Regions from separate parts of the Homo sapiens genome. Here regions 1 and 3 are each linked to region 2. The links come from fine-mapping of genetic effects on gene expression. A gene starts in region 2. Each other region holds a variant in brackets. All regions are shown on one strand. Distances are from middle to middle.

What was found. PIP is the estimated chance that this variant, and not a neighbour inherited with it, causes the effect. A credible set is the group of variants that fine-mapping cannot tell apart.
Region 1: its variant is the best candidate, but not a certain one, in a credible set for the expression of ITGAV in anterior cingulate cortex (GTEx, PIP 0.68).
Region 3: its variant is the best candidate, but not a certain one, in a credible set for the expression of ITGAV in spleen (GTEx, PIP 0.68).

Annotation. Positions count from the first base shown.
Region 1 is chr2:186,557,020-186,562,250 of GRCh38, forward strand. No RefSeq gene overlaps it. Among named protein-coding and RNA genes, the nearest start is that of ITGAV, 30 kb to the right of the region's middle. RefSeq lists a silencer at 2,962-3,011. The variant G/A (reference allele first, on the strand shown) is at 2,965.
Region 2 is chr2:186,587,302-186,592,532 of GRCh38, forward strand. ITGAV (integrin subunit alpha V) reads left to right here and starts at 2,755. Exons shown (of 30, transcript NM_002210.5): 1 at 2,755-3,222. The coding sequence starts at 3,038. LOC124906105 (a long non-coding RNA gene) reads right to left here and starts at 2,595. Exons shown (of 2, transcript XR_007087465.1): 1 at 1,689-2,595. RefSeq lists a silencer at 2,818-3,047 and an enhancer at 3,178-3,237.
Region 3 is chr2:186,665,921-186,671,151 of GRCh38, forward strand. ITGAV (integrin subunit alpha V) reads left to right here. Exons shown (of 30, transcript NM_002210.5): 22 at 784-863; 23 at 1,230-1,310; 24 at 1,751-1,856; 25 at 2,842-3,000; 26 at 3,781-3,894. Among named protein-coding and RNA genes, the nearest start is that of FAM171B, 26 kb to the right of the region's middle. The variant T/C (reference allele first, on the strand shown) is at 3,094.

The DNA of each region.
Region 1 (5,231 bases), 30 kb before region 2:
ACTGATCGCATTGTCACTGAGCAGTAATCTTTTGAAAGATACCCTTTCTGAGCAGTATGTGTTAACAATAGGCTTTAAATATTCGGTAAACCATGCCATAAACAGATGTGCTGTCATCCAGGCTTTGTTCTTCCATTTACAGAACACAGGCAGAGTAGATTTAACATAATTTTTATGGGCCTTGGGATTTTTGATATAGTAAATGAGCATTAGCTTCAACTTGAAGTCACTAGCTGCAATCACACCTACAAGACAGTCAGCCAGTTCTTTGAAGCCAGTAATTAATTTCTTCTCTTTAGATAATAGCTATAATAAGTCCTAGATGACATAATAAGTCCCAGATGGCATCTTCTTCCAATATAAGGCTGTTTCTTCTACATGGAAAATCTGTTGTTTAGTGTGGCCACCTTCCTCAATCATCTTAGCTAGATCTTCTGGATAACTTGCCATAGCTTCTACATCAGCACTCGTTGCTTCACCTTGCACTTTATGTTATGGAGATGGCTTCTTTCCTTAAACCTCATGAACCAACCTGTGCTAGCTTCAAATTTTCTTCTGCAGTTTCCTCACTTCTCTCAGCCTTCATATAATTGAAGAGAGTTGGTACCTTCTTCTGTATTAGACTTGGTTTAAGGAAATAGTATGGCTGTTTGGTCTTCCATCCAGATGATGAAAACTTTCTCAATATCAGCAATAAGGCTGTTTCACTTTATCATTTATGTGTTCACTGGAGTAGCACTTCTTATTTTCTCCAATAACGTTTCCTTTGCATTCACAACTTGGCTAACTGTTCAGCAAGAGTCCTAGTTTTCGGCCTGTCTCAGCTTTTGTCATGCCTCCCTCACTAAGCTTAATCATGTCTACCTTTTGATTTAAAGTGAAAGACATGGGACTCTACCTTTCACTTGAACGCTTGAAGGCCACTGTAGGGTTATTAATTGGCCTGATTTCAATATTGTTGTGTCTCAGGAAATAGGGAGGCCCTAGCAGAGGGAAAGAGGTGGGGAAATGGCCAGTTGGTGGAGTAGTCAGAACACACACAGTGTTATATGGTCAGGGTTCTTAGTCCCTCTAAACATTTATGATAGTACCATCAAAGATCACTTATATGGGCAGGGTTCTTAGTGCCTCTAAACAATCATGATAGTAGCATCAAAGATCACTGATCACAGATCATCATAACTGATATAATAATAATGGAAAGGTTTGAAATTTTGCAAGAATATTGCAAAATGAACAAATGCTGTTGGAAAAGTAGCACTGATAGACTTGCTGGATGCAGGGTTGCCACAAACCTTAAATTTGTAAAAAATGCAATATATGTGAAGTGCAATAAATGAAGCCCAATAAGATGAGATATTCCTATATAACATCAGGTATTCTCCCTAAGAATTCATGTGGTGTGTTTTATTTACTTGGATAAATTTTGCTTGGGTGTCTTAGGTACCTGAAGTTCCTGGACTTCCAGGTATCTAACTCTAGGCATCATCCTTTGCAGGGAGCTTTCACTGTTGTCATATTTTGGAAGTCCATATCCCACTTTTCCTACTTGTTCAAAACTACTTCTCAGGGGCTATCCCCATTTCACACTCTACTTTGCCTTGTTTCCAGATGAAATTCCTTTAGTACTTAAGCTGCGTGTCCTATTAGGCCATCATTTATACTTCATACTTTGAAAGCTTCTTCCTCTACTCCCTAAGTATGACTCAGCTTTGATTCTGGGCTTTGGATAACTGGCCTTCATTAGACAAAGTTTGCAGTATCCAACTTTAGCTTCTGATATCTGTCCCTTTATTCTGGAAACTAAAAACTGGCCCTAATTAGCAATGAATCTTACTAGTTTTTTACTAACTCTCCTCCATCTCTTAGTGATTAGTTTTGCTTATTCTCAATTTGTCACCTTTACAAGGTGAGGCATACTGGTAGATCCTAACCCTCCAGGTCTCTCCAGTTTGCTAAGAGCCAACCATGACAACCAGAATTCCTGTTACATCTAGTAGAGAGATCATTGCCAAGTTAATTTGGTGAGTCGTAGCAGACCCAACAAATTGTTGATCTAATAAAATATTAAGAGCTGTGTCAGAGATGAGTTCCAAGAGAACCCTAACAATACCAGTGATAGCATCCAGACAATAAAGACTGACATTTATTATGCAGTTAATTATGTACTTGACATTTCCCTAAGCATGTAAATCTCTATCTTATTTAACCTTACCAAAACTATGTGTGGTACATGCCATCATATTCTGTATTTCATATATGCAGAGATAAGAAAATGGTTCTGGGGGTGTGGTGGCCTAAACTAATAAAGAACCCTTCCTACCATTACTTAGAACTGTTAAACAAGATAAAATAAATTATATTGTAAATACCAAGGTGAGCTTGCAAAAAGGAATGGGAAACTTCTGGGCATTAAGAAGAAATAGGCCTTAACATTTAGGGATTTGGACTTTAAAACTCAAAAGAAACAAGAGACAAGTTAAAGATTTGAAACTGAGACCTGTATATAAACCAAGTCTCACAAAGGTCCCCACCATCAGTGAAAGGAGAACTAGAAAAAGTCTGCATATAGGTCCCCAGAAGGGAGCAAGGAAACATCTCTGCCTGAACTATTGAGTTGTGGAGCAGTGATTATCAGGGATGCCTGGTAGAAACAAATGAAAGAGCATTCTGAAAATCACTTCTATAAATAAGGCAACAAGAATTTCTTCTAAGAGAAGCAAAACCCTGATGAATTCTAAGACACACAAGGAAATAATGTGTCATAAGCAAGAGCCAGCAGATACTGTAACTGGGGGAAATTAGTACATCCAAGAATGTAGAAAACAGAATAATATGAAATAAGTTATTAAATAAATATTTTGAAAATATGTAAACACATGAATGAAGGAAGAGAAACATATGGAACATAATTACAATGAAAAAAGAGCAGGTGGATTTTAAAAAGGACCAGATAGAACAACC[G/A]AAAAAGAAAACCATAATCACTGAAAGGTTGAGTAACTTGCTTGAGGTCATTCAACTAGAAAGTGACAGAACTAGAGCTCTAAACTCAGCTTTGTCAGTCACATGCTGTATTTTCTGAACATCAAGACACACTAGCTTCCTACTGATCAAAATCTAGGCTGGGGGTAGTGGCTCACGCCTGTAATCCCACCACTTTGGGAGGCTGAGGTGGGAGACTACTCGAGCCCAGGATTTCAAGACCAGTCTGGGCAACATGGATCTCATCTCTACAAAACTTTAAAAAAATTAACCAGGCTTGGTGGCACATACCTGTGGTCCCAGCTACTCCAGAGGCTGAGGTGGGAGGAATGCTTGAGCCAGGAGGTCGAAGCTGCAGTGAGCTGTATTTGTACCACTGCACTCCAGCCTGGGCAACAGAGTGAGACCCTGTCTCAAAAAATAAAAATAAATAAATAAATAAATAAATAAATAAATAAATAATAAAATAAAACCTGAACTAATGAATTCCATAGGAAAACGTCACCCTTTTGATGTGGTGAAGTCTCTTTGGAGGGAGCATATCACTAAAAATCACATGTTGAGGTAAAATAAAATCCTTGCTTTTCTATGGGAAATTAACAAGTTATAACCAAAAACGTGTTGAAATTGGTAAGGTCAACAGAAAGATTTTTTGTGAATTATTAAGTGAACAGATCCATCAGTGGCTGTGACAATGAATGACACATGTCTTGTTTTTCAATTAAACTTCTGATCTATTTGTCATTTGTTTTGTATGGTTATTTGCATGACTGGAGTAGGAGTCTGGGTTGGAGATGGAACATTGAGACATGGAGGTGATGTTTAAGAAGAGAACTGAAGGTATTTACTGCTTTAAAAAATGGGGATCCTGCTCCAGTTAGCTCTCTTCTTTTCCTCCCTAACTATTCTACCATTTCTGACAAACAGGCAATTTATAGATGATTAGTGCAAACCAAACAATGATGGAGAATGAGAAAGCATTTGGTCAGGTTTATTGCTCTATGGTATTGTCAATAACCACATCACAGAAACACCATTACTTTGGACCAAATTCATGTCATGGAGCTAGATTTTTAATTTCAAACATTTTTATGAGGTTTGCTGTATTGGACATTTAGTAACTATATCATTTTCAAATAATATAGTTTCCAGTGCAAGGAACCACAAAGGTTGTTATTAATGACAAATTTGTTGTTTTGCCCTTCTCACAGATTAGCATTATTTTACAGGTACTTATCTCTTCGTTCACAGAATCTCCATGCATTTAATTCTACATGTTGTTCTTCCCACACTTTTCATTATGTTCCCTTATGGGTCTTCCATAATGTATTCAAAATGTTACTGAACACATAGAATAATAAAATGTGGGAATTATGTGGTTGATGCCGGGTAGTAAGATGTGATCAAATGAGTGTGCTGTATCTCTAAGTGTTTCCTAGTCAGGGCAGATTGTGTCTCCTCTCCTCCAAATATGATACAGCACTCAAAGAGGTCATTATTAAAACTGAATTATCTCAGTGCTGTGTGTGGAAACTTAGATTTTGAAAAAAGATAACTGAATTGTGACATGTGCAGATTAAAGACCCCTAGGGCCTTGAATAAACATCAGTGGTAGCCAGGCAATAGTTACCACAGCCCTTGGGCGAGACCCAGTACTGTGCTGGCTTCAGGTATGACCCAGCACAGACACAGCAGTGATGGCCACAGGAATGATTGTGTTACCCCTCCCCCGACTCCAGGAAGTTCAGCCCAGAGAGACTGTTTATTTAGGGGAAAGTAAGGGAAGTGAACAAGGGTCTCTGCCTGGTAATTAAGAGAATTTTCATGGGTTTTACCCAAGACCACTAAGGCAATATTTTTGCAAGCTTACAAGAGTCAGGGTGTTACTAGCTTTGGGGTGTGTCCTAATGCACATACGGCTGCAGTGACTAAAGACTTACGTTACAACATTCAATTCTCTGTGAATACTTCAAAAGCCTTCACAAGAAAGACAGGAGCAAATAAGCCCAGACTGCGAAGATTAGAGTAAATACCTAACTCTTCAATGCTCACACACTGAAGAACATCCACGAGCATCAAGACCATACAGGAAAACATGACCTCACCAAACAAACTAAACAAGGCACCAGTGACAAACCCCAGAGAGCCAGAAATATGTGACCTTTCACAGAGAGAATTCAAAATAGGTGTTTTGAGGAAGCTCAGTGAAATTCAAGATAACACAGAGAAGGAATTCAGAGTTCTAGCAG
Region 2 (5,231 bases):
CAGTGGCACGATCTTGGCTCACTGAAACCTCTGCTTCCCAGGTTCAAGTGATTCTCCTGCCTCAGCCTCCCAAGTAGCTGGGATTACAGGTGCCTGCCACTGCACCCAGCTAATTTTTGTATTTTTAGTAGAGATAGGCTTTCACCATCTTGGCCAGGCTGGTCTTGAACTCCTGACATCGTGATCCACCCACTTTGGACTCCCAAAGTGCTGGGATTACAGGTGTGAGTGAGCCACTGCGCCCGGCCAATTTTTGTATTTTTAGTAGAGACGGGGTTTCACTGTGTTGGCCAGGCTGGTCTTGAACTCCTGACCTCAGGTGATCCACCCACCTCGGCCTCCCAAAATGCTGGGATTACAGGCATGAGCCACAGTGCCTGGACTATTTGCTTTTTTAAAAAAAACAAATTCCTTGATTTTCAAGACTGCTCATTCAAAATAAACTCATAAAGAATGGCTCAACAGTAAGTGCTTTCAGTAAGTTGTAGCCCTATTTGGGGGTGTGTTGTTCACCCAAGTTTTGGTGGGTGTACATGTGTTGTCATTTCGTGGGCTTCTTCTTTTCCCTGGTCCTCTCACATTTCTTCACTCCACCTTGGTCTGTCGGACCCCTGTCCTGCGATCAGAAGTTGAGGAGTGGGAGACTTACTGGATCTAGCCAGAGTTTAAACTCTTCTGTCTTCCTTACCTGGATGGATTTCCAGGTAGACTGGTTGTCATGTTTTTAAGATATAAAAGACCCTTTGGGTTTATGCATACATATCAATAGCCTCTTTGGTGTATTAGGAAAGAAGGTGAGAAATAAGCTGTATTTGCATTTATGTGTAAGGATTTGTGTAGGATTTCTTCTCTCAATCAGTAATTTCTTTCAGGCAGATGCTAGACCATGCCTTGTAAAACATGCCAAAGGTTTTGCTGCATATCTTTTAGTCAAATTTAAAAATGGAAATATTTAATGCATTTTTTTTTTGAGATGGAGTCTCACTCTGTGGCCCAGGCTGGAGTGCAGTGGCACCATCTCAGCTTACTGCAGCCTCCGCCTTCCGGGTTCAAGCAATTCTCCTGCCTCAGCCTCCTGAGTAGCTGGGACTGCAGGCGCATGCCGCCACGCCCGGCTAATTTTTTGTATTTTAGTAGAGACGGGATTTCACTGTGTTGCCCAGGCTGGTCTCGAACTCCCGAGCTCAGGCAATTTGCCGGCCTCAGCCTCCCAAAGTGCTAGGACTACAGGCATGAGCCACCTCGCCCGGCCTTTTTTTTTTTTAAACACAGGGTCTTGTTCTGTCACTCAGGCTGGAGTGCAGTGGCAGGCTCATGACTTATCATAACCTGGAACTCCTGAGCCTAAGCGATCTATCTACCTGCCTTAGCCTCCGGCATAGCTGGGACTACAGGCATGCACCACACTCCCAGCTAATTTTTAAATTTTTGTAGAGATGAGGTCTCCCTATGTTCCCCTGGAACTCCCGGTCTCAAGCAATCCTCCTGCCTCAGTCTCCCAAAGTGCTGAGATTGCCAGCATGAGCACCTGGACCTGGTCCAATAAATATTACAAATTCGAATTAGGCATTTCACTTTCATTTATATACATATCCTTTCACAGGATTATTTGATAGTTATTAATGTATATTATGATTGAGTTTTAATAGTTACTTTGGGAAAACAGAAATTACTGTTCCAGTACTTACTTGTAAGTTGTAAGTCCACACAATGCACTTAAACTTCACCTTGTTCAACAGATTCTGTAGCACATGAAACACTTGAAATATGGAAGAGTCACTTCTCTGGGCACTTTGCTCATTTCGTCTGCTATTCATTCACTGATTGGACATTTTATTGATCGACTACTATCTGCTTGGCAAGGTGCTAGAAATAAGAACACTAAGAAAAAGGTCAAGGTTCCTGTCCTCAAGGCCCTCTCTCTCAGTCCAGTGTTGTCAAGGCTTGATGAAACACACCAGTGGCAAACAAGCACGCGGGGCCTTATTTCACCGGTGTGCGGTCCTTCTTCCAGCTCTGAAATTATGTCTATCCAAACATCCTAAATCAACAAATCAGTGTTTCTAAATCATACAACCGCAGCTAACAAACTGGGAATAAGGCTTCGATTATTCTGACTTGATTTAAAACGATCACTGCCAATTCTTTGCCCTGCGAATCCTTTCTTTGACTACTAAGTTAAGCTTTACATACCTCACTTGCAAGAGGCTATGCTGGCTTTCTGGAAATCCGTAATTAAGTTCAGTGTTTGTGGAATGGAGTGTAATTAACGACCATTAATTAACAGGGTTTCGTTCGTGAGAGCCTGCCAGGCTAAGCAGCAGAAACACGAGAAACTGATAAAAAGCTTTCCTCATTTTTAAACAACAGTCGCACGGAAGTTCCCGGCGGGACAAGGGAACGTGGGTGCCCTTGCTACTCCCGTGGACGCGGGTAGATTGGGACGCTGGACCGTATCTCCCCGCCCCCGCCCCCACGCCTCCTCAGGTGCTCAGCCTGAGGCCTTCGTCCAGGAGCGCTGCCGCTGACCCAGGCTCAGGAGCTGGGGGCCCCTGCACAGACGCCCAGGTCTCGGGACAGGCGGCGACTGCACTCACGGAAGTACGCTGAGCTCTCCCCTGTAGAAGGGCGCCTCTCCTCCCCCACTTCCTCCTCCAGCTCCACAGCAGCCTCCCGGGCCGGCTCCTCCTCCTTCCAGGTCTCCTCCCAGTGCCGCCGCGGCTCTCAGGCCTGAGGTGCGGCGCTCACCCCGGCAGTCCCCAGCCTCAGACGCTGCGTGGAGCGGCGGAGCCGGAGGGAAGCAAAGGACCGTCTGCGCTGCTGTCCCCGCCCCGCGCGCTCTGCGCCCCTCGTCCCTGGCGGTCGCTCCGAAGCTCAGCCCTCTTGCCTGCCCCGGAGCTGTCCCGGGCTAGCCGAGAAGAGAGCGGCCGGCAAGTTTGGGCGCGCGCAGGCGGCGGGCCGCGGGCACTGGGCGCCTCGCTGGGGCGGGGGGAGGTGGCTACCGCTCCCGGCTTGGCGTCCCGCGCGCACTTCGGCGATGGCTTTTCCGCCGCGGCGACGGCTGCGCCTCGGTCCCCGCGGCCTCCCGCTTCTTCTCTCGGGACTCCTGCTACCTCTGTGCCGCGCCTTCAACCTAGACGTGGACAGTCCTGCCGAGTACTCTGGCCCCGAGGGAAGTTACTTCGGCTTCGCCGTGGATTTCTTCGTGCCCAGCGCGTCTTCGTAAGTGGCCGCACTTGGAACTGGAGCCGGCCCCCTCCCCCACCGCGCGCACCCACCCAGCGTTTCTCCATTGGGATTGATTTCCGAGAGATCCCGGCGTCTGTCTGTCTCACCCATCCTACCTCTCAGAGTGGTTTATATCCTGGGTGGAGGAAATATTTGGGGAAATGAACTCCCTTTGGTACCCATCACCCAGTTACACCCCGCTTCTCACCTCTTAAAATTGGTTAGGGGCAGCGGGAGAGCTTTGAAGCAGACCTGTGCTTAAAAATCGGGGAAAGTGGGAAATCAACAAAGGCTGGTCTTGCCGGACTCCCCGCCTCCTGTGCCAGTGTCGAGGATTTGGTCAATATCATCCCCGAACTTCTTTTTCTCCTCTACCAGTTAGGCTTCTTGGTAGCCTTTTTCTGCTTTACAGGCTTAACGCCCGTCCTTTTCAGTCTCCCTAAACAAGCCCTCCCCCACTCTTTCCGCCTCTGTCTGATTCTGTTTCTCCTTACTCCTTTTGCAGACATTCTGATGACTTAAAATGACCATACTGTCCTATTGAATTCATTGTGTCTTATCTCTGGGACTGTCAGACATTTGCACATTTGAGGTTGAACAGATGAATTGAATGTGTCATCTGTTCTTTTTATAGTGATTCACTATTTAGGTCATTGTTCAGAAGGAACAAGGGTGTTTGCTGAGTTTTCACTCGCTGCAGGTCATTTGAATACTGCAGTATTTAATAATTCAGTTATGTTTTCAAGTTGCCAACGTTCCGCGTTGCAAGGGCCGTCAGGATTTATAACAGTTATTGCCATTATTGTGTTAGAAATTGTCTCCGACTTTACTGAATGCTGACATCATTCTCACCACCCCACCCCCATGTTAGCGTTAGGAGTACTGTTTTAATGAATGTTGACTGTTTTTTTAATGATGTTTAAATCTTGTTTTCAAGAGAGAAACTGTTCTTAGGGTGCCTTCTAAACGCTTAGACCTTGTAACAACATATTTTTGTTTCCATATTTTCTGTATAAGATATCCCTTCGGGGTGAAGTGGAGGAAAATTTTGACGGTTAGTACGTGGATAGGACCATCTTCTACTACACACATGCCTAATTTGAGGGTGGTCTCAATGGTTTTCTATGACTGTTAGGACACTCAGCAGAATTTAGTCTTAGTGTTTTTCTGAATGTTACTGAGTATCATTCATTTTGGTAACAACCTTTGCAGCAATACATAGATTAGATGCAGTTAATGGAAACTTTGTTAGTGGAGACATTATTTTATGTAGCAAGCTTAGTTTTATTTGTTGTTAGCAGTTACAGTGCTTTCTGTGAGACCTGGAGCACAGATTTTCCAACATGATAAAAATAATCATTATTTAGGCAACATTTACCAATTTCACATTCCATTTAGTCATTTTAGTCAGCATTATCTTTTTATTTATTGTTTTTAACCACAGGGGTGAATACCAAACGTTATCTTTAAACATTTTTGTTTCCAGATACTTTCAAGTGTATACCTTCATGAGACAGAACATTTTAGTTGCTCCCAAGGGTTCAATGTGAGATATAATTTGTAGAGAAATTCTAATGATTTTGAAAATATATGTCTTCAGTCAAAAATTAGCATTTAAATACTTCAGGCCAGGCACAGTGGCTCACACCTGTAATCCCAGCACCTTGGGAGGCCAAGATGGGCAGATTGTCTGAGCTCAGGAATTTGAGACCAACCTGGGCAACATGGTGAAACCCTGTCACTACAAAAAAATACAAAAATTAACCGGGCATGGTGGTGCACACCTGTAATCCTCGCTCTGCGGGAGGCTGAGATGAGAGGATTGCTTGGAAAGTTGAGGTTGCAGTGAATGGAGATTGTGCCACCACACTGTGGCCTGGGCGATAGAGAGAGACTGTCTCAGAAACAAAAACAAAATCAAAAACAACAAACAATAACAACAACAAAATAAAGTTGATGGCAGTGTTTTACAATGTTACTGTTAATTCTTCAGCAGTGCTCTG
Region 3 (5,231 bases), 79 kb after region 2:
TTAGGGATGAGAACTTGAACAAATTACCCTAAGTTCAGTTTTTCACGTGTATTCAATGTTTTATTAACAATGAGCATGCCTTTTATTTTCTCATATTCTCATTCTCTCTAACTTTCTGGTTATTATATAGTTTCTGCTTATTACAAGTAGCCAGCTCCAGGTTTTGTGGAGTGGGAGGCAGAACCCAGGAAGTACTGTTTTTATATGTCATTTGTGTGATCCCCAAGAAGCCTTCTTTTTTGTACCTGGTGGTTCAATTGTTTTATTTAAAATCTACCAATTTTCTGCCTGCAGGAATTAGGATATTTGGTGTTGGGAGTGTTATGAGAGGTGTGTGGAGAAATTCTGGTTGTGGCCCTACTCATGCCTTCTTTAGCCATGTTCCCTTACTCTAGTAAACCATCCATTTCTTCTTTCCTGGCCTATGAACACAGCACATACTTTGGTGGTTAGCTTCGTGTTATCAAATTATTGTACCCAGTTGCTAGACTTTCACTGGATCAACAAACATTTACTTTTGCACTTTTTAGAAAGATGGTTAGTATTATAAGGAGGTATAATTATGATTAATAATTGTTGTTAAATAGGCTCTCTTATGGATTGGTCCAGGTATATTAAGTAAAATAGGTTTGATAGAAAATAAGATTTAGTTATCTTTGTTCAGTTTTATTGTAAGCTCAGAAAAACCCCATTTTAGAACATTATTTTTTATTTAGACATTGGATTTGAAATTTTGCTAATTAGACATTGACTAGCATTACTATCTTTTCCTCTCTCCTTTAGCTCTTAGCTGGTCTTCGTTTCAGTGTGCACCAGCAGTCAGAGATGGATACTTCTGTGAAATTTGACTTACAAATCCAAAGGTATGAAAACAACTTATATTCACTTATAACTATCAAATAAATATTATTTGTTGTAAATATACTATGTAATATACTTTAAATATAAAGTAGCAGATTAAATTTTATTGCTTGACTATAGCATTTTAAAATCAATATTTACATTATAAGAATAATTTTATTGTCAGATTTGAGTTTGTAAAACAAAATTTAAAATCCAGAAAGAAAATGTTCATCTTCTTGGAATTAAGTGTTAATGAAAATAACTATTTTGAGGTATAAGCTTTACACTTGTTTCGTTTGTTAATTTTTAGTTTCACTGGGTTTGCCTCTGTATGTTCTTGGTTGTTATGCATAATTCATTTTTAAGTTTTTTTTTTTCTTTTTCAGCTCAAATCTATTTGACAAAGTAAGCCCAGTTGTATCTCACAAAGTTGATCTTGCTGTTTTAGCTGCAGTTGAGATAAGAGGGTCAGTATGAATACTTAGTTGAGTATCTCATTCTCATGATTGCTTTTTAAAGGTAACTGTCAGGCCTTAGCCTTTTCTGGACAATAGACCCTGCATGTTTAGTGGTGGTTTTACTAGGGCATTAGCTTCTGTAGAAATAAAATCCTAGGTATGTTCCAAACCCCCAATACTGGGTGATCCTCAAAAGGAACAAGACATGGCAACAACATGCACAAAATAATTTTGTTGAACTTTTACACAAATTGTCAATTCACCTGTTACGTGTACATTTCATAAGAGCAGTTTTTGTGCATGTGTGTGTTCATTAGTTTTCTTTTAAAGTATTTTTTAAAATTAAATCTAATTTTATTTATTTGAGTAATGAATATGGGGTACTTTTGAAAATGAACTGACTATATCATTTTGATATTCATGGTAGGTTTTCTTTGGTCATTGTTTAGAGTCTCGAGTCCTGATCATGTCTTTCTTCCGATTCCAAACTGGGAGCACAAGGAGAACCCTGAGACTGAAGAAGATGTTGGGCCAGTTGTTCAGCACATCTATGAGGTTTGCAGTTGTTAGATTTTACTCAAACCTCGTGAGCAAGCCAACGAAGAGAGGAACAACTAAGCTACTTTAAAAAAAAAATTCTATGTAATTTTTATGTAAACTCTACATTGGTTAAGTATGTGTCAGAGATTTCTTTGAATATTTTCCCTATACATAAATTCATTTTTATTTGACAAATAGACTTGTTTAAATAAAGCAGTTTATATAATTTGTTGTTTAAAATAAATTAGTTCTACTTGAATAAAGAAATGTCATTGGTACTTTCTCATGGGCATTTTGTAGTTCTGGCTAAAAATTGAAAATACCTATGGCAAATAATCAAAACTATTTCTATAGGAAGAAATTTTCTTTGTCATCCTTCATTAATAACTTTTAAATATTTTGCCTTTTGTTTATACATACATACATATATATATATATATATATATATATATATATTTTTTTTTTTTTTTTTTTTTTTTTTTGAGGTGAAGTCTTGCTCTGTCGCCCAGGCTGGAGTGCAGTGGCGCGATCTCAGCTCACTGCAAACTCCACCTCCCGGGTTCAAGCGATTCTCCTGCCTCAGCTTGCTGAGTAGCTGGGATTACACGTGTGCACCACCATGCCCGGCTAATTTTTGTATTTTTAGTAGGGACAGGGTTTCACCGACAGGTTTCACCACGTTGGCCAGGCTGGACATGAACTCCTGACCTCAAGAGATCCGCCCGCCTCGGCCTCCCAAAGTGCTGGGATTACAGGCATGAGCCACTGTGCCCAACCTTGTTTATATTTTTATCCTGACACATATTACTCTGTGTTAGAGACAAATGTTGAGTTTGATCATTTTTGCATAAAAATGGTCACATTGTAATTAGAGGTTAACTGTGGAAATTGCTGTTATTTAAAACCTATTGCTAACATGATTTCTAAAGTTGATGTAGGGGAAGGATTATGGAACAGATTTTTGCCCAAGGTGTAGATACATTTTCTTTTTTCTCCTTAGCTGAGAAACAATGGTCCAAGTTCATTCAGCAAGGCAATGCTCCATCTTCAGTGGCCTTACAAATATAATAATAACACTCTGTTGTATATCCTTCATTATGATATTGATGGACCAATGAACTGCACTTCAGATATGGAGATCAACCCTTTGAGAATTAAGGTAATATGCTTAATAGCAGCTCTTCATTACAATGATATTTCATTGCCTTCTTTCTAAACCTGTAAAAGAAATTCATAAAATAAAACAACTATT[T/C]TAATATAAAACCCACTCTGCAAAAAATGGTTTAGTTCATAAGCAGTACACTTAGGATAAGTTCATTTGTATAATGGGTAAGAATTGATTCTGTGATGTCTAGTGAACCACATCTTCATAGAGTGCTTACTGAGCCTCATGAGATGTGTCCTTCAGTGACTCAGTTTGACCTTGGCTCCATCACGTTGTTGTTTCTTCAGGGCATAATATCACATCAAGGGTGTTTTGTTGTTAAAATTTCTACCTTTGGGATAAGCTATACCATTTTACTCATGATTATCTTGACTTTTGGATATAGTCATCTCCATCATAGATTTGCACTAGAAACTATTACACAATATGATCTAAGGAAAGGTGAAGAAACAAAATAAAAGATATACCCATGATTGACATCACAAATGTACTGTGGAATTTCAGGCCATTTCTGTATGTTTCATCAGTTTCCACTCTAGCTAAGCAAGGGCTGAAAATAATGGTTAGGGAGAGCTAACTTTTTTGGTACATATTAAAGACTCTAATCTTTATTTTCTGTCCTTACTGCTCACTATATACTGAGTGGTAAATATTCTGTCATACTAAATTTTCATTCACTATTTTTTAATCATATCTAAGAGTTTATATCAAAATGCTGATGTAAAATGTTTTTCATTATCATTTACCACCATTTTATTAATGTGATTGCATTAGATCTCATCTTTGCAAACAACTGAAAAGAATGACACGGTTGCCGGGCAAGGTGAGCGGGACCATCTCATCACTAAGCGGGATCTTGCCCTCAGTGAAGGAGATATTCACACTTTGGTAAGTGCCATTTCAAATATGTGCACCATAGACATTTAAAAATATGTGACTATAGAACTGACGCCAAAGAACATTTCAAAAATAACAACAGCTGTGCTTGAACAACTACATTTATTTTTATACCATGCATTCCTCTCACTTTCCTTTTTCCTAGTCAGATTAATGCCATATTTTCTTCAAATGAGCTATTTTTGTAGATGGCTAATAAAACTAGTTTATGTCCCAACTTTGATTCTCCTACTCTAGTTCTTTAACTGTCCTCTTTCTGGGCCTCCTCCTAATCTCTGAGGCTTTAGTACGATACTAAAAAATCCAGAAGGTCCCAACAAAAATACATTGGAATAATAATTAGCACTTGATTAACCTTTGTTGAGTTAGCCTATATAATGGCTATAATGTTTTTAAAGGCAATTGTTTTTCTTTTTTCTTTTAATTAACAAATCTCCAGATCTCTAGTAGAGAACCTGGTATAGTGTTTTTTGTTTGTTTGTTTGTTTGTTTTTTGACACAGAGCCTCACTTTGTCACCCAGGCTGGAGTGCAATGACACAAACACAGCTCACTGAGGCCTTGACCTCCCAGGCTCAAGCAATCCTCCCCTATCAGTCCCCCAAGTAGCTAGGACTATAGGCGCTCTCCCCCATGCCCAGCTAAGTTTTGTATTTTTTGTTGAGATGAGGTTTCACCATGTTGCCCAGGCTGGTCTCAAATTCCTGAGCTCAAGCGATCTGCCCACCTCAGCCTCCTAAAGTGCTGGGATGACAGGCATGAACCACCATGCCCAGCACTGTTTATGTTCAATAGTGATCACTAGTTACTTTTACATCACCAAATTCTGTGGTTCTTGTTAGTCCTCAACCATTCAATTGCCTAGTGGCTTTGGTTCACTTAATCACTTCCTTCTGTTGACTCTCATGGCTGTAAATACCATGTGGTGTAGATGCTTTGATTTATATTTCCAGTCTGATCTTCTGCATTGAACTTCAGATTCCAATATCCAACTGCCTACTAGAAACTGCTTTTAAATATCTAATAGGAATCTCAAACAATTCTAAATATATACCCTTGGGTTTTCCCAAGTCTGCTCTTTCCATAAAGTTCTTAGTTGATTTTAGTAAATACCAACTTCATTCTCTAACACCTGGACCTCATGCTTGACTCCTCTCTTTCTCTCAAATCTCACGTCTTGTATTTCAGCAAATTGCATCAGTATTTTCTTTCAAAATACCTAGAATCTGGCCCCTTCTCACCAGTTTCATCACTAACACAACCTAACCCAGGCTCCTTTCCCTTCTCGATTGGACTATTGCCAGACCCCTGGTTGGCCTCTGTATTTCT